5 separate regions of the Homo sapiens genome follow, and all the other regions are linked to region 3. The links come from fine-mapping of genetic effects on gene expression. A gene starts in region 3. Each other region holds a variant in brackets. All regions are shown on one strand. Distances are between the middles of the regions. Region 1 overlaps ARSB (arylsulfatase B). Region 2 overlaps ARSB (arylsulfatase B). Region 3 holds the start of ARSB (arylsulfatase B). Region 4 overlaps ARSB (arylsulfatase B). Region 5 overlaps ARSB (arylsulfatase B).

What was found. PIP is the estimated chance that this variant, and not a neighbour inherited with it, causes the effect.
Region 1: its variant is fine-mapped to the expression of ARSB in whole blood (TOPMed, PIP above 0.99). The same link has a PIP of 0.9 or more in blood mononuclear cells, iPS cells, monocytes and testis.
Region 2: its variant is fine-mapped to the expression of ARSB in fibroblasts (GTEx, PIP above 0.99).
Region 4: its variant is fine-mapped to the expression of ARSB in fibroblasts (GTEx, PIP above 0.99).
Region 5: its variant is fine-mapped to the expression of ARSB in whole blood (TOPMed, PIP above 0.99).

Annotation. Positions count from the first base shown.
Region 1 is chr5:78,882,619-78,886,739 of GRCh38, forward strand. It overlaps ARSB (arylsulfatase B), which reads right to left. Exons shown (of 8, transcript NM_000046.5): 5 at 2,966-3,209. Among named protein-coding and RNA genes, the nearest start is that of ARSB, 100 kb to the right of the region's middle. The variant T/C (reference allele first, on the strand shown) is at 2,295.
Region 2 is chr5:78,871,475-78,875,595 of GRCh38, forward strand. All of the region lies in intron 5 of ARSB (arylsulfatase B), which reads right to left. Among named protein-coding and RNA genes, the nearest start is that of ARSB, 110 kb to the right of the region's middle. The variant A/G (reference allele first, on the strand shown) is at 2,313.
Region 3 is chr5:78,983,667-78,987,787 of GRCh38, forward strand. It overlaps ARSB (arylsulfatase B), which reads right to left and starts at 1,644. Exons shown (of 8, transcript NM_000046.5): 1 at 1,271-1,644. The coding sequence starts at 1,582. RefSeq lists a silencer at 967-1,826.
Region 4 is chr5:78,905,167-78,909,287 of GRCh38, forward strand. All of the region lies in intron 4 of ARSB (arylsulfatase B), which reads right to left. Among named protein-coding and RNA genes, the nearest start is that of ARSB, 78 kb to the right of the region's middle. The variant A/G (reference allele first, on the strand shown) is at 1,837.
Region 5 is chr5:78,783,044-78,787,164 of GRCh38, forward strand. The region is part of intron 6 of ARSB (arylsulfatase B); the gene reads right to left. Among named protein-coding and RNA genes, the nearest start is that of LHFPL2, 140 kb to the left of the region's middle. The variant G/A (reference allele first, on the strand shown) is at 2,035.

The DNA of each region.
Region 1 (4,121 bases), 100 kb before region 3:
AATAGTGTTTGCAGTAAGTTTCTTGGATGACACAATCAAAAACCAATGGTCTGTTAAATAAGGAAAAAAGATGTAGTAAAAAAATGCTGAAAAGAAAAATTCTAAGGAAATATGACAAAATGTTTATAGTAGTTGTTTCTAGGTAAGATTTGAGTGATTTTTTTTTTTTTTTTTTTTTTTTTTGAGACGGAGTCTTACTCTGTCGCCGAGGCTGGAGTGCAGTGGCACCGTGTTGGCTCACTGCAACCTCCATCTCCTGGGTTCAAGCAATTCTCCTGCCTCAGCCTCCTGAGTAGCTGGAATTACAGGTGCCCACCACCACACCCGGCTAGTTTTTATATTTTTAGTAGAGACGGGGTTTCACCATGTTGGCCAGGCTGGTCTTGAACTCCTGACCTCAGGTGGTCCACCCACCTCAGTCTCCCAAAGTGCTGGGATTACAGGCATGAGCCACCACGCCCAGCCAATTATTTTTATTTTTTGTAGTTTGCAAATTATCTACAATGACATATAGTACTCACGCTTGGGGAAATTAAATTTAAATTTAACATATCAAGTTTAGATCATGGATAGAGGCAGAAATGTTTCAAAGAAAAAGAAAAAAAAGTCATCGCATATGAATGAGCACATAATGAGCACAAAGCTTCAAAATTTCTGGTGAGAGAAAAGGTTTTACTGCTTTGCTTCTCAGCTTAGCTGTTCAGTGGCATTACTTTTTCTGTGACTTGGATGCTGTAGAGTGTTCTTGAAATGACAAATCATAAACTGATCACTGTCTCCAAACTGACAAATCAACTTTTCAGGCAAGAATAAGAGGGAACAATTTGAGGCTAGTGAGGATTTTAAAATAATATGAAAATAATATGACTCATAAGAACCAAAATAATGTTTAGAAATGGTGAAGAAATGGCTACCCAATACTATAAATGTTGCTGCTTGAAAAGTGATCTTTAAAATTTAATAAATTCTCGAAGGAAAACATGGAACTTTGAGTTGCAAAATAATTGAAAGAAGGTTATAAAGCTAATTAAATCAGATTTTCCCTTGGGTTTGTAAGAGATGAGGACCTTCCCTAGTCTCACCCTTCTGGGTGAGGCCCATTAGAGAGGAACCCATAGACTCCACGTTGTGAGAGGTTGAGCGGCCTGGCTGAACACTTCTTCTATCCATTCCTGAACTCACAGGACTTTAAACTTTAATGTTTAAACTTGAATAGCTATCAAACTTCCTTTGTAAAAACTAATCTTAGGCTGCTGAACCCTACTATTTTTTAACATTAATTATTAATTACAGAAAAATTGATAATATAAAAAGATAAGAAATAATCTATATATTTTGCAACTGGAAATTGGTCAAAGTATGGTATTTCCAGAGTGTTGAATACTATGATTATGTTCAGCAGGGACTATAAACTTAAATGCCTACAGAGACTAAGTAGGTAACCTAAATGAGTGCAGTGGATCTGTATTGGAACTTGGGAACAATAGAGATTGAAGATTTGAAGGGTGGATACTTCATCTACAGAAGGCAGCAGCTATTTGATTCTAGTCAGTTGTTGGCCTTCTGGAAATGTGGGTGCAGTGCTGTCAGACCTTCCTATTTTTAAAACACTTTTATTTGGAAATAATTTCAAATTTACAAAAAGTTGCAAAAATAAGACATAACAAAAGAATACTTATGCACCTTACCTATATTCTTTTATTTAATTTTGCAGTCCATTTGAATTCTCTCTGTGCACATGTACATACATACACACACACACACACACACAATTTTTTTCTGAACCATTTGAGGGTATGTTAAATATATCATGGCTTTTTGCTCCTAAATACTCCATTGTGTATTTCCTATAACTAGAGACCTGAAACCTGCTATTCTTGAGCTGGGATACCTGGAGTGGGATGAAGAGATGGCCTGAGGAAGTCCTCTCCCCCTGGCCACTAAGGGACAGTCAATCAGCTGCTAACCCCAAACAGAGCTGTAACACCAAACAGAGGTTGAAAACCATTGCACTAGGTCATTCCACCCGTAAAAATAATACCTCCAATATATGCATATTTATTTATAAATTAGATTTATGTACAAGTCTACTAATATATTATGTGTCTTAAAAAACATATACTTTAAAAAGGATGAGATGAAATTAGATATTAATACAAATACAAGATTGAAATTTTCTTCCTGTACTCCAAGGGAACATCTTGCAACCTCTAAGGCATGTGCCTCCCAACCTTGGGGGCTATTGCTCTACACTGTGGGGGTTAAACAGGAAAAAGACCATCACGATTTCCAAA[T/C]CTGAGTCTGGGTCCTGTTCCCTGATGTATCTTCTTCACATCAGCCAGCTCTATCTATCACAACATACTTTTTTGCCTTCCTGGCACTTATCACAACTGGCAGTCATCTTGCTCATCTGTGTGTTCATTTGTCCAACATCTTTCTCCCCCAACTAGAATACAGCTTCCTGAGAGGCAGGATCTTGACTGACTTGTTCATTCCTAATTTCTCAGCATCTAGAAGAAGGTATGGCACATAGTAGGTGCTTGTTAGATACTTGCTAATAAATGGAAATAAACATATCCCTAGTTCCTATTCCAGCTTTTTCCCTGCTGTTTTGTCCTCCATTCTTCCAGCAGACAACAGGACTAGTTCCCTGACCCCCTGCAGGAAGCTAACAATACCCTAGCCTACTTCTAAGCAAAACGTCGCAGCTTCAAAGACCTTCCATGGAGGGCGATGGGCTGAGGACAATCTTGTTCTTCACGTAAAACACAGGCCCACAATCTCAAATTTATAATTTAAAAATATATATACTTACAATGTCTCTAAAGGCACTTATTTTTCTTAAAAATCATGTATTTGTAAGCTGAACTATCATTTTAACACAAAAGCTATCATTCTTGCTCAATGGAGTCAGGCTGCTCTTGGAGTTTCTGTCCTGGGAGGAAAAAGGGCAGGGTGTAGGTACCTGATGGTTTTCCACACGTCGAAGCCATCCAGAGGCTTTGTGCCATTGGTGTGTCCCCTGGCCAGCTTCACGAGTGTTGGCAGCCAGTCAGAGATGTGGATGAGCTCCCGGTTCTTCACGCCCTTCTGCTTCAGCAAGGGGCTTGCCACAAAGCCCACCCCTCGGACGCCTCCTTCCCACAGGCTCCATTTTCTTCCTCGAAGGGGCCAGTTATTACCCCCTGCCAAAGTCTGCCCTCCGTTATCTGAAACACAGTAAGGTCTTGGCATGAGGATGATGTTAACTCTTAAATACATTTAAGAACAGAGACTGTATGTACATTGTTACTAAATGGTGCTTAAATAATAAAAAAAAAGAAAATTCCTTGCCTTTTCCCACCCTAAATTCCCTTTTCCCATTGACATAGCCTTTCATTATTCAGACATAAGTAAGGCCCAGTGTGATACATATCTACCTTTAAATCCTCCATGGAGAGAGCCACTGGAAAACAAGGCAGTCCCTCGATGATATGCGCTTTGGAGATCCCTAAGCTAAACAATCCACTAAACTTTAAATACACCTGTGTAACTTTGTATAGCATGGGAGAATGAGTCCATGGAAGCTGGGACCCTCTCCATGCATGAAGAGAAAACTAAGGGAATTTCACTTAGTGACTTAATGCTCCTTATAGGTGGAGACAAAAACTGACCTTTTTCTTTTCCTCTTGGAAAAAAAATTCTACAATTTAAACTGGAAAATGAATTAACACTCTACACTCTGGCAATAATATCTCTTTCTTAAGTGTGAAAGCTGAGTATTTCTCCAGTGGTTGATAAATGTCTCTGTAAACAGAACATTAGATGGAAAAATATAATTGTGAAAAAAATTTTTCCCCTCTTGACAGGATGGTGAAATAAAGTTTCATTATGCACAATACCAGGGAAGAGAAGGTTTCTCTTCCAAGACAACAGAAGGAATGGGAGATCTTGGCAAAGACAGGGTAGAAGCTACTAGAGTAACTGAAGTTAAGTATCTTCCCAGCCAAATGAGGGCTCAGAGTTAAGACATTAAAGTGGGCAGTAGAAAAGAAAAAGTGCCATTTCTTACATACTGGGGTTATAGAATCATACAAACTCCCAAAGTATCCACAGATTTAGGTGACTTTAGAGACACATTT
Region 2 (4,121 bases), 110 kb before region 3:
TCAATGGAACAGAACAGAGCCCTCAGAAATAACGCCGCTTACCTACAACTATCTGATCTTTGACAAACCTGAGAAAAACAAGCTATGGGGAAAGGATTCCCTATTTAATAAATGGTGCTGGGAAAACTGGCTAGCCATATGTAGAAAGCTGAAACTGGATCCCTTCCTTACACCTTATACAAAAATCAATTCAAGATGGATTAAAGATTTAAACGTTAGACCTAAAACCATAAAAACCCTAGAAGAAAACCTAGGCATTACCATTCAGGACATAGGCGTGGGCAAGGACTTCATGTCCAAAACACCAAAAGCAATGGCAACAAAAGCCAAAATTGACAAATGGGATCTAATTAAACTAAAGAGCTTCTGCACAGCAAAGGAAACTACCATCAGAGTGAACAGGCAACCTACAAAATGGGAGAAAATTTTCGCAACCTACTCATCTGACAAAGGGCTAATATCCAGAATCTACAATGAACTCAAACAAATTACAAGAAAAAAACAAACAACCCCATCAAAAAGCGGGCGAAGGACATGAACAGACACTTCTCAAAAGAAGACATTTATGCAGCCAAAAAACACATGAAAAAATGCTCACCATCACTGGCCATCAGAGAAATGCAAATCAAAACCACTATGAGATATCATCTCACACCAGTTAGAACGGTAATCATTAAAAAGTCAGGAAACAACAGGTGCTGGAGAGGATGTGGAGAAACAGGAACACTTTTACACTGTTGGTGGGACTGTAAACTAGTTCAACCATTGTGGAAGTCAGTGTGGCGATTCCTCAGGGATCCAGAACTAGAAATACCATTTGACCCAGCCATCCCATTACTGGGCATATACCCAAATGACTATAAATCATGCTGCTATAAAGACACATGCACACGTATGTTTATTGTGGCATTATTCACAATAGCAAAGACTTGGAACCAACCCAAATGTCCAACAATGATAGACTGGATTAAGAAAATGTGGCACATATACACCATGGAATACTATGCAGCCATAAAAAATGATGAGTTCATGTCCTTTGTAGGGACATGGATGAAATTGGAAACCATCATTCTCAGTAAACTATCGCAAGAACAAAAAACCAAACACCGCATATTCTCACTCATAGGTGGGAATTGAACAATGAGATCACATGGACACAGGAAGGGGAATATCACACCCTGGGGACTGTGGTGGGGAGGGGGAGGGGGGAGGGATAGCATTGGGAGATATACCTAATGCTAGATGACGAGTTAGTGGGTGCAGCGTACCAGCATGGCACATGTATACATATGTAACTAACCTGCACAATGTGCACATGTACCCTAAAACTTAAAGTATAATTAAAAAAAAAAAAAAAAAGAAAGGGGCTACATTTAGCAAAGAAACTGCACTTCACTATAGCAATACACAGCGCTCTTGAAGCACCTGAAGTAAATGAAAGTGTCCAAATCCCACTCCTACGGATTGCCTGCTATCTTAGATCCAGGAAACGCCAACATACATAAACGTGAACAAAACCAAAAAGAACTCAGCATCTATGCAAAGTTACCATACGAGTTAAAAAAAATAGAAAATGAGAATTCAAAAATTTGGCAAATGAAAACATTCTCCTACTATGGAAAAACAGTCATAAGGCAGAAGAAAACCATTACAGGATATTTCAACATGAATTAAATATAATGAAATCATCAACTGCCAATATTAAAGAAACAACAACCATGATTCAGAAATTGTAAAACTCAGACATCACACTTTTTAAAGGAAGGGAACTGGGAAAAAAAGGACAAAATCTTAGAAATGACAAAACATTATACATGACATTCTCTATGTGAAAGCGTGTAGAGAATAGAAATTAAAAGAGAAAGGATAATTAATTCAAAATAAAGAAAAAATAAAGAGGCAAAGAGGATACGAGAGAAATTGACAGAAACCAAATTTATGTAAAGAAGATTCAATAATACCTATAACTAGGAGTTCCTGAAGAAGAAAAACAAAACAGTAGAATATAATATTTAAAACTGTAATTTTTTTTTTTTTTTGAGACGGAGTCTCGCTCTGTCGCCCAGGCTGGAGTGCAGTGGCGGGATCTCGGCTCACTGCAAGCTCCGCCTCCCGGGTTCACGCCATTCTCCTGCCTCAGCCTCCCAAGGAGCTGGGACTACAGGCGCCCGCCACTACGCCCGGCTAATTTTTTGTATTTTTAGTAGAGACGGGGTTTCACCGTTTTAGCCGGGATGGTCTCGATCTCCTGACCTTGTGATCCGCCCGCCTCGGCCTCCCAAAGTGCTGGGATTACAGGCGTGAGCCACCGC[A/G]CCCGGCCTAAAACTGTAATTTTTAAAAACTCTGAAATAAAAGAAGATCTGAATATACAAAGTGAAATAACTCACTTTTATCTGAGAAAACTGACACAGTAGGGTCACCTTTGTGACACATCTGGAAAAATTCTTAGATTTTAAATCATAACTATAATAATAGTGATAATAAAAAATCTTCTGGGTGCCCAGACAAAAAACACAAAGTCACTTGCAAAGGAATAAAATCAGGCTGATATTAGACTTATCAACAGTAACATAGAAAACAAGCAAAGATTAGGGTAACATTTTCAAGAAACTCAAAGCAAGAAAGTGTGGGACAAGGGTTTTATTTTAACCGGTTGAGCTGGTGTTCAATTATCAAGGTTGTAGAAAATGTTTTAATAAACATGCAAGAATTCAAAGAATCCTGAGAAATCTATTCAAGGATGAATTCCTCCAACTAAGAGATAATTGTGAACACTTTAGAAGTGGATGGGTGGTCAGTATTGAATATATTATTGAAGATCTAAAACTAAAACAAAATTGTGGATAAAGAGAGAACAGTATTACATATTACATGCTCTGATACAGTAGGAATAACACTACTTAAATCACAAAACTGGAAGAGAATGAAAAGTTACATAAGTTGCTTGATTTCCTTATGGGTAATAAGTGGAAGCTGAAGATGTCATTTAAATGTGACAAACCAAATAGTGGAACCTAAGTAAGAAAAAAGGGACTAAGGAATTATATAAAGATATTTGTATAATGATAAACAGTAGGATAAAATATAAATTTTTCTAAATATTAAAGAACTACTAAATAAAAGGTCAAAGATAAAAAGTAAATGTAACAAAACAATGAAAAAACTAAGAATAGAAATAAAAATATTTATAAATATGTATAAATTCATCTACTAAAACATTACAGACTGGATCATAAAGAAAAACCTAACACTATACTTAACAACTACAGAATACGCATTCTTTTCAATTACACCTGATGTGGACAACAAGAAAGACCATCTACTAGGCCAAGTCTCAAATTTAAAACAATTAGCCCAGGAGTGATGGCTCACACCTGTAATCCCAGCGCTTTGGGAGGCTGAGGCAGGAGGATTGCTTGAGCCCAGGAGTTTGAGACCAGCTGAGGCAACATAGTGAGACCCTGCCTCTACAAAATAAAAATTTAAAAATTAGCTGGTTATAGCAGTACATGCCTGTAGTGCCAGCTACTTGGGAGGCTGGGGTGGAAGGATTGCTTGAGCCCAGGAGGCAGAAGTTGCAGTGAGCTATGATTGCACCACTGCACTCTAGCTTGGGTGACAAATTGAGACCTTGTCTCTGTTAAAAAACAATAATAATAATTGAAATAATACAAAGCATTTCAATTATTTGTGGTCCTCAAAACCACAACTGAAATAAACTAGAAATCAATAATTTAACTAGGGAAAAACCCAAAATTTGGAAACTTAACAATGCACTTCTAAATACATGGTTCAAAGAAAAAAATCACCATTTGCACCATTCCCCATAGAATACATTCTTTCAAATGAAAGAACTCAAACATAAATAATTACATTCAAACATAAATAATATTAATATTCTAACATTCAAACATAAATACATTCAACATATTACATTCAAACAAAAATAATATTAATAATATACAGAATTCTTGTTAAATCCTTTCTGCTCAAGATGCTGTAGACGTTAGTTTATTGTCTACTGGTGAGTATTATTATAGCAAAGTGAACCAGGTAAAGGCAAACAAAAACAAGACAGGATTGCAGTTTTGGTATTTGACAAGGTGGAGTTTATGCCAACA
Region 3 (4,121 bases):
CCCATTTCTAACCTTGGCTACAGCTATTTCTCACCCTTAGCAACACCCAATCTTTCCTCTTTATAAAAGCCTTCAGACCACTGCGCATATCTTTATCACAAGTAAGCCCTCCCTTCTCTTGATCTTAGGACCACGTGAGGCTAGGGTTGATCTGACAGGTTATGCGAACACACACTTGGGAGGGCAACATTCAAATATATATCCCCTGTCAGTAGCACAGTAAGCTCAAAATATTTTTGTTGAGTAAACAGCATATGTACTCTGTGAAGGCATGCAGGTGGTATCCAACAGTTCCCATTTACTGTATTTAATATGGTCATAATAACTTCAGGGTCTTAGAAATATGACAATCGTATTCAGATTGAGGGGAAAAAAGGCCAATTTCATAAGCCCGGGACGACCAGTGGATGCAGGAAAAGCACAACGGACACTGCCTTGACCACTTTCTAGCTGTGCGATTCTTATGCCAACGAGCCTTTACAGGCTTCCTGCCTCGTCTGTAAAACGGGGTAAAAACAACTACCTCATGCACTGTTTCAATAATTCACTTTAAAAACAACAAAGTGCTATGCAAATGTTCTTGATATTCTTAGCCATCTAACATCTATGCACGCTCTACATTTATATTTCCTTCGTTAACTGTGGAGCCGTTCCTAAAGGGAAGCTTTTAAAGCGATAATGAAGATGCTCAGAAGAGTTCAATACAAGGTTACATGTGAAAGGAATGTCAGCAGCCTAAGAAAAATCAACCTAGCATCAGGTTTCATTCCAGGGGTGTTGAGAACCTGGAAAAAAATAATCTTTGGTGGGACACTCCTAACCTATCACCGCTGGGTTCCCACGGGCCAGGGTCGCACCCACGGCGAGCACCCCTTCATTTTACCTCTCCCCTCGTCTTTGCTCCCAGCCCACGCCCTCCCCAGCCTCCCACCTCAGGACCGCTCCGCCTGCCGGCCGCGGCGCCCAGCACCCGGCATTCCCATAAACCCCTTCGCCCGGAGCTTCAGAAAACGAAAGACAAAGCCACCCGCCCAACCCGGCGGCCGGGGCGCGGGTCCGCGGGGCGCCAGAGCCGGGCATGCGCAGAGGCCGCGGCGGGCTGCCGGCCTGGAAGAGCGAGGTTGGGGCGAGAAGCCGCCGGGACCCATAACTGGGTCGGCGGTCCGAGCCCCGCCTGCCAGCGCCCGCGGCCTCAAGGGCCGGGTAGGAGCGGCAGGGCGCCGGCGAAAGGCGGGGCGGGGGCGGCGCGGGCGGCGGGGGCGCCGCGTACCTGGTAGCGGCCAGTGAGCAGCTGGCTCCGCGACGGCGTGCACAGCGGCTGCGTGTAGTAGTTGTCCAGGAGCACCCCGCCGGCCGCCAGCGCGTCCAGGTGCGGCGTGCGGATGCGGGAGCCGTGGAAGCCGACGTCGTTCCAGCCTAGGTCGTCTGCCAGCAAGAAGACCAGGTGGGGCGGCCGGCTGGCCCCGGCGCCCGAGCCCGGCGGCGCCAACAACAGCAGCAGCAGCAGCGGGAGGACGACGGGGAGGAGCAGCCGCCGAGGTCCGGGGCCTCGGGGCAAGCTCGCCGCGCCGCGCGGACCCATCCTTGTCCGCCCGCGGTCCCAGCGCCTGTGGCGCCACCAGCCCCTTGTACCGCTGATAGAATGAGGAACTGGGCTGCCGGGGCCTGCTCCGCCCCGGCGCGGGACGGCACCCCCAGCGGGCCGTGGGCTTGCGAGGCCGGGCGCTCGGCCCCCGCCGCCTCCGACCCGGGCCCCCGGCTGCTGTGGCGGAGGAGGAGCCAGAGACGAACCCGCGGGCGCCCGCTGCCCGGCTTCTTGGAAACTCAGCTGACGCTTGGAGGGCACCAAGGCCCGTTATCTTCCCCGGCAATTAAATTTGCACTGTGGTTTCCTAAAAAAAAAAGATGTGTTCTTTAATAACGCTTCACAATTTACAAAGCATCTTCACAGCCCGCGTCTCCTGTAAAGCCTGCAACAACTCTGACAGTTAGACATTATAATTAGTGCCAATTTTTCATAAGAAAAAAGCTTATAAATGGTTAAACCTCTGACTCAGATCCTGAACCATGATGTCTAGCTAGCAAGTCATTTCTAGCACAAGAGCCCAGCCTGTGGCAGGTGGGAGGACGGTGAAAAGGCAGAGGTCTAAATAGCCTTTCACATTCATTTATGCGTAGTGTACACCCATGAAGCCGCTTCCTCCCCACTAGCAAACAGGAGGCCAAACACACAGTCTGATTGCACGGTGCCCTTTGGAAGGTGCGGTTACTTTCAAGTTGCCCTGGGAGGATTTGGAGTGTTGCGTGGTCATTGAATAAATAGCTCATTCGCTTGTCCGGATATGACCCCACTCAGAGCTGGCTCCCCCACTAAGCAGTGACACTAAGAAGCACACAGTATCTAGTTAGCCTGAAATATCTGAGTGGAAGGAAAAAATCCTTTAGTCACGTGCTTATTGAATTAGGAAGTTAGCCGTATGACCAGTAGATTCCCGTTGCCATCCAGACTTTCTGTCTACTCTGTCTGGAGATATTATAGTTGTTAACAGGTGTAGGGGAAAATTTTTGCATTGCCTAGAGACCATACCCTTCCAGGTTGAGTCTGATTCCGTGGAAGTTGTTTACAACTTTATAAGTTATAGATAAATAACAATGGAAAATAATTCTTATTTATATATACACAAATGAACTTTATCCAGCGGAGTAGCAATCCTTCCCCTCCACCACTACCAAGGAAAACAGTTTCACCTCCGCTTGCATATTTATTTTAGTATTCCTGATCTGTTCTTTGGATTGTCCTTTGAATTGGTTTTAACACCTTACCAATTTCCTTATTAATGAGTTAAATAAAATCATGTATTCACTTTTATATTTGTATGAGGGTCATGATTTTACCTTTTTTTCCCCAAGAATCCTTTAACACATGAAATGTTTGCCTCTTACATACACTTTTTTTCTTTGCATGAAGTAGATTAGTTTATGTTGTATGCACTTTAATCTCTAGTGGAATCAATGAAATTTAGCAGAAAAAAGTGAAAATTTTAGCATTAAATTCAAAGAATAACTTTTGAGAGAACTGTTTGACTCATTATGTCAAGGGTTGAACTTTTCATTTAAACACCCTGTAGAAGACCTTGAAGGACTGAGAATTTCCGCTGTGGTTTTGTGTCTTTCTCCCCCGTAATCCTTCCTATTCTCCTTGATAAAAATTAAGAAGAAATAATTGATGGGTGCTAATCTGCAGGAACAATTCCTCCTTTAACCAACTTCCCCTGAAACTAGCTAAACTTGCACAGATTCTTACGTCCTATGTTTTTAAAATAAAAGCATATGTTAATAGTGCTCTGGAAATGTGCAAATTGAAGAGTTAATTCTATTTTCCATCTATGTATTGAACACATAATGTGCAGTACAAGCTAGTTATTTTATAAAATCTCTCAATTGGAGTTTGATGTTTCTTCACAATTAGATAGAGGTTATGGATTTGTGCAGGAATACCACAAAAAGTGATGTGGTATGTTTCTCGGTGCTTCCTATTAAGAGGCACATGATGCTGAATTGCTTTCTTATGGGATAACTTTGTTAAGGTAAACATTTCCTCATTGTAAGGTTAATATTTTCTTCTTGTAATTAATAAATATTTTATGGAGAGATAATTTGAGAATATGTAAATATCCTATTATGCCTCACACACATTATTTTGCTTACCAGTTTTAGTATCTTGCTTCTTGCTTCAATTAGTTATAATTAGGATGGCTACCAAATGCTGATTTTCTAATTCCTTCATTTCCTCTATATTTATGAGTTGCCTTTCTACTGTAAGGAAGAACTTTCCCTTCTCATTTATTTATTTCACTATGAATTCATGAATTCTTGTTTTAATCAATATGCTATAATCCTTTGCTATAGTTATTTCAATGCTCAAATTTTCTCTGTTTTGGCCAGTGGGAGCCCCTACAATCTGGCTCATATCCTTTTGGCATGTCCTCTTGAATCTTTGAGCATGTCCACACATTTTGATACAATGAGATTTTCTAGCCTCAACTTGCACTTTTCCTCTCCCAATCCTGGAATCAGACATTTCTCCAAGCAACACTGATTCTTTTTTTTTTAGACGGAGT
Region 4 (4,121 bases), 78 kb before region 3:
TATTTTTCCATTCATTTCAAGAGTGTTCAACTTTGTCTCATGGAGAATGGTTACAATAGCTGCATTAAAGTTTTTGTCTGACAACACCAATATTTGGATGATCATCTCAAATGAGCTCATCACAGCTGAAATAATCTATTTTTAGTCTTTTCCCTTGAGTACTGCTCGTATTTTCCTGTTTTTTTTTTTTTGTATAATGAGTAATTTTGGACTGTCTATTAGACATTTTGAATACCATGTTCTGAGCCTCTAGGTCTAGTTAAAATCCTCTCGAGGGTGTTGATGTTTGTTTGGTTAAGCAGAGAATCAACCTAGTGAGACTCAGACCACAAGTTTTGTCTCACCTTCTGTGGACAGTGGCTCTAATGTCAGTTTAGTTTTTAAAGCCTTTGCTATGAGGTTTGGGTTTGCCCAGCGCATGTGCCACTCAGGGGTTAATCTAGGACCTGGGCAGTGGTTCACATGGCAGTTGAGTTTTCGAAGCCTCTGCTTTGCTCCTTTGGGCCTGTGTGGCATATATGCACTTGGAGGTGAGCCTGGGGCTTAGCTCATACACAGAATCAGGGGATCCTCTTCTCCAGTTCTTCTCTCCCTTTAGATCCTTCAGATCCACCCCCAACCTCCGCTCCAGGGGCCCCTTTATGTGGTTTCTCTGATCAGAAAAACAGGTTTCTGTTAGGTTGTAGTTCCCCATTCTGTCATGCACTTCTGCATAACTGAGGTTGCCTTTGGGAGCAAAGTAGCAAAAAAAAAAAAAAAAAAAAAAAAAAAGAGGAAAATAACAGAGATTATCTCACACTCCGGTCAGAAATGTGGGTCTTCTTTTGAGATTTTAGGTGCCTGCACCCCACCACAACACCAATGCAGATCTTCAACTGGGGCCTGTCTTGGGGTAGAGTTAAGAAAGAAAAGGGAAAGAAAAAGAAAAAACAGTCTGGACACTGTGGCTCACACCAGCCAGGCAACATAGTGTGATCCAATCGCTAACCAAACATAAAAAATTAAAAAAAAAAAAAATTAGCCAAGTGTAGTGGTGCATGACTGCAGTCCCAGCTATTTGGGAAGCTAAGGCAGGAGGATCACTTGAGCCCAGGAGGTAGAGGCTGCAGTGAGCTATGGTTACACCACTGTACTCCAGCCTGGGCAACAGCGTGAGACTCAATCTCAAAAAATTAAAAGAAAAGAAAAAACAAATAAAATAGGAATTCCCCATATTCTTGAGCAAGAGCCCACTTTCCTAGACCTCTGGTTAGAAGTAGGAGGTTTCTCTTGGAGATGTTGCTGCCAGTGCCTGCTGCATAGTTCCATAATTCCATTGGCTCTTAGGTCAAAGCCAAGAGATAGAGGAGAGAAAATAAACCTCCAAAACTCACCACACAAGGGATTCATGAAGCTTTGACTTTATTCCCCATTCTCCATTCACCTGATTTTGTTTTCTTCTCTGTCCCTATTCTTATCATCCCTGCTGTTATATTAGGTTGGTGCAAAAGTAATTGCAGTTTTCGAAAACCTCAATTACTTTAGCACCAACCTAAGTACTTTTAAGAAGCCTCAGATAGTTGCTTTCAGTATTATCCAGAGTTTTTAATCAATGAGAAAGATATTTGTTGACTTCCTCCATCCTGGTGAGCACGGGAAGGTGGTGCCCATGATTTTAATGAGAATGGGCTAAGGGAACTTGTGATACTTGTCTTGATTTTTTTTAAACCTTCATCTGAATTGATACAGGAGCATACTTCATGTCAGGTAAGAATAAAAAAGGAAACAATTATTTGACACACCTTAATTAAGCACCTGCTAGGTGCCCGCTACTCTGGGAAAAGGCAACAGGGGTTC[A/G]ACACATGGTCCCTGCTTTCGAGGGAGGCAACATCCACAGAAAGCATAGCCTATGTGAAAAAATACAAGACTGTACACAACTAAGGGCAAAAAAGATACAGAGAAAGGAAACAAGGTAAAAACTGGGGAATTAGAGGTGACACGGAGGCCGTTCAAGCCCCCAGCTAGACCTTGATGGAGAAGACAAGGCACTTTCCATCAGAGGGCAAGGGGATGGGGCGGGGTGATTATTATTCCAAAGTTGGCTTTGTACCTTTTTATTACACAGTGAGTTTGTTTTCCCAAAAGGAAAGAAAGAGACTGTTTCTAAGGGCATTTGATCACTCCTGACCCTGTTCTTCCCTCGCCTTCTCTCAACGTGGTGGAAAAGTGTTTCCAGGACTTTGGTTCAGAGTGAGGACTGGAGGCCCAGCCACACTGGAGTGAGTCATGAGATCTTTCCTGGGGAGTCTTGAATTACCACATACAAAACTCTCAGTAACTGTCGGAACTCAGCTGGTTGCTGGTTTTGCTTGCATGCTTTAGCTGCGTTAAAGCACTCGGTAGTTTATTTTTCATATTTTATTTGGGTTAATTCCTAAAAATCACAAAGGCAGCGCCTTCATGCTAGGACAGTATCTATTATATTTTTTAAAATTTTGTTAAGTATTCAGGAAGGCTTTGCGTGGACTGCTCCTGTTAGAAGACAACCACAAAGCGGGGGAGGCCACGGGTAGAGCGGTTGCACAGATGGCAAGTGTAAGCAAATAGCGGCCAAGTCCATTGTGAAGTTTCACTTGCAGCTGTGTGGAAAATACCTATGCTGGTGACTCAATGTCTTTGGATTTCTAGCTTTAAATTACAGCAGAGAAGACTCATTTTCAAGTGCTGAGCATATAGGGAGACTGGCAAATGTGGGCCAGTTTTGAGCCCATCAGTTACCATACACTGCACTACAGAAGGATAATTAAAAGCAGGGGGAAGGGGGAAGTCTTGTGGTAATCAGGGCATCAAGCATGGTACCTGGACAGCTGGCATGGCAACCAACCTGACAGCAATACTGTGTCTATTTCCAATAATAGAAATTTAGCTCCCTTCCAGTGTAGCTGTATGCTGGGGTCTTGATTTTCTTTTCTGGAATGAGGTGTGCGCAGATGCAACGTTATTGCTCACCTGGCCCATCAGAGTCACGTATAAATGGTCAGGCCAGTGACTGTATCATACTTGTGCCTCTCACAGTTTTGTCTGGGAACTCTACCTTGTGTTGTAAAAGACCTTGTGTCCTCTGACCCCCCTCCCCCGACTTCCACTCTCCTCTTGGTCTGCCGCTGGGACTGTATTTTGTCGCTTATCTAACACAAAATAAACAGAACAATCTGGAGCTAATTTAAGTGGTTTACCATATCAGGATACAGCTGGGAAAGATTTTAAGAAAAGGCTCAACAGGAACAATAGCGCTGTGAAGTGGAGCAGCAGCGGAGAGCACAGGAAGGCAGTTTCAGGCAGCCTGGCAGACAGCTGTCAGCCACTCCAATAACAATTCCTGCAGCCAATGAAAACGGGCAGGCTCTGTGCGGGCAGCCTGGCCGGAACACCAACAATGAAAACAAGGGATTAGAGAGCATTCTCAGTTAATGGCTTGAGTGTCAGGGCCACCAGTCTCCCGGGAGCCAGTGCTCCCAACCAGCAAGGACTGGAGAGGAACTGCAGATGAAACAACACTTCATTTCTCTACAACACTGGCCAAGACTTTTTTTTTTTTTTTTGACATGCATGCATCCACGCTGGCTTTATCCTGACTTATGAATCCAGCAAGGCCCACAGAGGAACATCTGGTTTTGACATTAATTTCTTCTACTCTGCAGGATGGTTGGGTTTTTAACTCATTGGGGGCCTTTGGCTAGACCTTGAATTTCCTGGTGCAACTTGACAGAGGTGAGAGGGCTTGAGGGAGTTAAATAAAACTATGTGCTGCCCTTGAAAGGACTTGCAAATGCTTTATATATTAAACAAAGAAACTCCACTTGGATCAAGCTCTTGACAAAGATCCAACCAATTAGGTAAACGGTATAGTCTCGAAAGGCAGTGACATTTCATGCAAGGAATACTGAATTGGAAGCATGGAGACTTGGACTCTTGGTCTACTTCTGTCACTGCAAAAGGTTTCTGGGTCAAAGTTTCCTCACTTAGGACCATGTGCCCTTATCCTCTTCTTCATCATTTCATTTATGATATTAGCTTATGCTCACACATTTTTTTTTCCAGAGAGTACTTGACTTAGTAAAAATTTCCCTCTAACAACAGCA
Region 5 (4,121 bases), 200 kb before region 3:
CAAGGGCCCTCACCTCACTCCTACTTATGCCTATGGTTGAGGCCTAGCTGAATAACATATAGTCTGTTTTAAGCCCACATTTATCTGTTAGCTTTTCAAATATGGTCACAGCAATCATCTTGGGATCACTTCGAAAGGTTGCTGAACCACCAGCCTAATAATTAATTGTCATAATATGTGATATGTCTGTAAAAGTATAGACTCCATTGGAGTGGTTAACCCATCTGTCTGCCTTCCTTCGATAATAGACTTTGAGAGAGCCCTTATCCTCACCCAAGCAGGACTTCTGTGCTCCTGGGGTTTTCATGCAGGGTGTGTCGGTGGTGGAAAAGGCGGGACATGCCATTCTTTTGACAGTCTTTTGGAAATGACCTTGTAGAGACAAGCTGGAGACAGATCCGGCAAACACTGGTGCTTTCAGAACTTCAGTCTCAACAATCACACAGCAGCAAATCTTTAGCACCAAAGAGGAAAATATTTTTGACTTCTTGTTTCTCTGCTTGCGGATATTTTGGCTCCAATACAAATGGATACTTCTAGTACTTGAGGTGCATGAGCATGTCTATCACAGGAAATGGTTGCTAACATACAGACTGTGGTAAAACTGTGAACCCTCATGGTTTACTCCTCACAAGTTTGTATGAAGGCCACATTTTGATACCAAAGAATGTTAAATAAAACAAGCATGTTTTGTGAACACAAACAAAAAAAGGAAATTTAACTATCTCATCTATACTTATATTTATACACATTTTTTTCTTAAGACAAACAGGAACATAAAATACCTAAACAATAAATAAGCCTAAGACTAAACTATGAAAGATACTATTATCTTGACTTTATTGTTTTCATTTTGAGAAATTAAACAAAGGGAAAATTACAAAGAATAATATGACTAACACCCTATGAGCCATCACCCAAAATGAACAGATGTTAACATTTTACCATGTTTGCCTTTTTTTAAAAAAAATAAAAGAAACTGGACAATAAAAATGAAGTTGAAGTCTCCTTTGTTCTTATCCTCAAACCCTGTCCTTTCATTTACTCCTCTAGAGGCTGCTGCTATTGTGACTTCAGTGCATCCTTCAGCCATTTTAAAATGCAGAATACATATGTGCCAAGGGATAATATATAGCACTGTTTTATGCTTTAAAAATGTATGTGTGTACTGTTGGTGGGAGTGTAAATTAGTAAAGGTATTATGGAAGACAGTATGGAGGTTCCTCAAAAAATTAAAAATAGAACTACCATACAGTGCAGTAATCCCACCACTAGGTATTTATCCAAACGAAAGGAAATCGGTATACTAAAGGGTTACCTGCACCTCCATGTTTATTGCAACACTATTTATAATAGTCAAGATATGGAATCAACCTAAGTGTCCATCAATAGATGAATGGATAAAGAAAATGTGATATATAGACACAATGGAATACTATTCATCCACAAAAAAGAGTTTGTTGGTAAAGCCATCTAGGCCTAGAGTTTTCTTTGTGGGAAGGTTTGAAATTATTGATTTAATTTCCTGAGCAGGTATAGGACCATTTAGATCTTCTATTTCTCCCTTTGTCAGTTTTGATAACTTGTATTTTATTAGGAATTTGTGTAGTACATGTGAACTTTTGTTTTGTATTATCTTTTAAATGTTTGTAGCATCTGTAGTAATATTGCCTGTTTATTCCTGATATTGGCAATTCATGCTTTTCATTTTTTCCCAAGATACGTTTTGCTAGTGTTTAATTGATTTTATTAGTCTTTTTTTTTTTTTTTTTTTAGATGGAGTCTTGCTCTGTCACCCAGGCTGGAGTGCAGTGGTGCGATCTTGGCTCACTGCAACCTCTGCCTCTGGAGTTCAAGCAATTCTCCTGCCTCAGCCTCCTGAGTAGCTGGGATTACAGGTGCATGCCACCATGCCCAGCTAATTTTTTGTATTTTTAGTAGAGACAGAGTTTCACCATGTTGGCCAGGCTGGTCTGGAACTCCTGACCTCATGATCCGCCCGCCTTGGCCTCCCAAAGTGCTGGGATTACAGGC[G/A]TGAGTCACCGCACCTGGCCTGATTTTATTGGTCTTTTCAAACAACAAACTTTTGGCCTTGTAGATCCTATCTGTAGTATGTTTGTTTTCTATTTCATTAACTTCTTTTATCTTTATTATTTCCCTCCTTTTATTTTCTTTGGGCTTAATTTGTTATTTTTTTTATAACCTTTTGAATAACAGATATTCAACATTTTCATTTCTAATACGGACTATGAATTATCCAAGCACCAATGTAAAAAACATGTAGTCTGAAGTTGTTGGGCTCAATGCTCTGTATATCATTTAGGTCAAGTTTGTTAACTATGGTGTTCAAATCTTTTATATCTTTATGGACATTTTTGTTTGTTTGCTTGTTCTATCAGTTACTGAGAGAGGTATGTTAAAAATCTCTTCTATGACTGGATAATTATTTTGAAAACTCCCTCTTTAATTCTAATAGTGCTTTCCTCCTTTAAATCTACTTTATCTGATGTATAGATAGCTCAGTTTTTAGCTGTCATTGTTGCTGCTGTTAGTACCTGCATAATATATTTTTTCCATCCATCTGTCAACATGTGTGAGACTCTTATGCAATAGAAAGAAGTATAAAACAGGGTATGATAGGCAGGATAATGGTTCCTCAAAATGTCAACATCCTAATCTCCCAGAACCTATGAATACATCACCTTCCATGCCATAAGGGACTCTGCAGGTATGATTATAGGTAAGACCTGTAAGATGTGAGGATTATCTCAGATTTATCTGGATGGGCCCGATCTAATGACATGAGTTCATAAATGCAAGGAGTACTTCTTGATTATGGTCAGAGGGAGATGTGGCTGCAGAAGAAGGGTCAGAGAGGTGGCAACTTTTCCTTCTAATCAATAGGGAGACATAAGAGGAATTTAAATATATTTTTTAAAGAGTATATCATATAGTTCACATATGATCAAATTCACCCATTTTTAGTGTAAAATTCTATGGTTTTTAGTATGATATATTCACAAAGTTGTATAACCATCACTGTAACATATTTTAGAACATTTTTATCACCCCAGAAAGAAACCCTGCACCATTGGCAGTTAATCCCCATTTACTCCCACACCCTCCAGCCCTAGGCAACCCTTAACCCACTTTGTGCTCTGGATTTACCTATTCTGGACATTTTATATAAATAGGATCAGACAATATGTGGCCTTTCGTGTCTGGCTTCTTTCACTTGGCATAATGTTCTCAAGGTTCATTCATTTTGTAGCACGTATCAGTACTTCATTCTTTTTAAATAATGAATAATATTCCTTTCATTCCTGTATATTGCCAAAAATATACCACATTTTCTTTATTCATCAATTAATGGACACTTCTTTGTTTATACTTTTTGGCGACTACGAGTAATGTACCATTAACATTCATGTACAATTTCAGTGTGGATGTACATCTTCACCTCTCTTGGGTATATATCTAGAAGCAGAATTGCTGAGTTATATGGTAAGTCTATGTTTAACCTTTCGAGTAACTGCAGAGCATTAAAAAATGGCTGAAATGTGTTCTGTATTACATTCTCAATTTTATTCTTTTTAGAGACAGGATCTCACTCCATCACCCAGGCTGGAGTGCGATCTTAGCTTTAGCTCACTGCATCCTTAAACTCCTAGGCTCAAGCGATCCTCTCACCTTAGCCTCCAGAATAGCGGGGACTACAGGCACATGCCATCATGCCCAGCTGATTTTTTATAGAGATGGGGGTCTTGCAATGTTACCCAGGCTTGTCTTCTGGCCTCAAGCAATCCTCTCACTCCAGCCTTCCAAAGTGCTGGGATTACAGGCATGAGCCACCATACCCACCCAATTTCATCCTTTTGTATATAGATATCTCAGTTGTCTCCAGAACCATTTGTCTGAGAGAGTATTTTTTTCCTCTTTAATTGTCTTGGTATCCTTGTCAAAACCCAATTGACCATAAGCATGAGGGTTTATTTCTGGACTCTCGATGCCATTCCATTGATCTATAGTTATTAAAAAATCGATAACCATCTATCTATCTATCTATCTATCTATCTATCTATCTATCTATCTATATAGATACAGGTTTCACTATGTTGGCC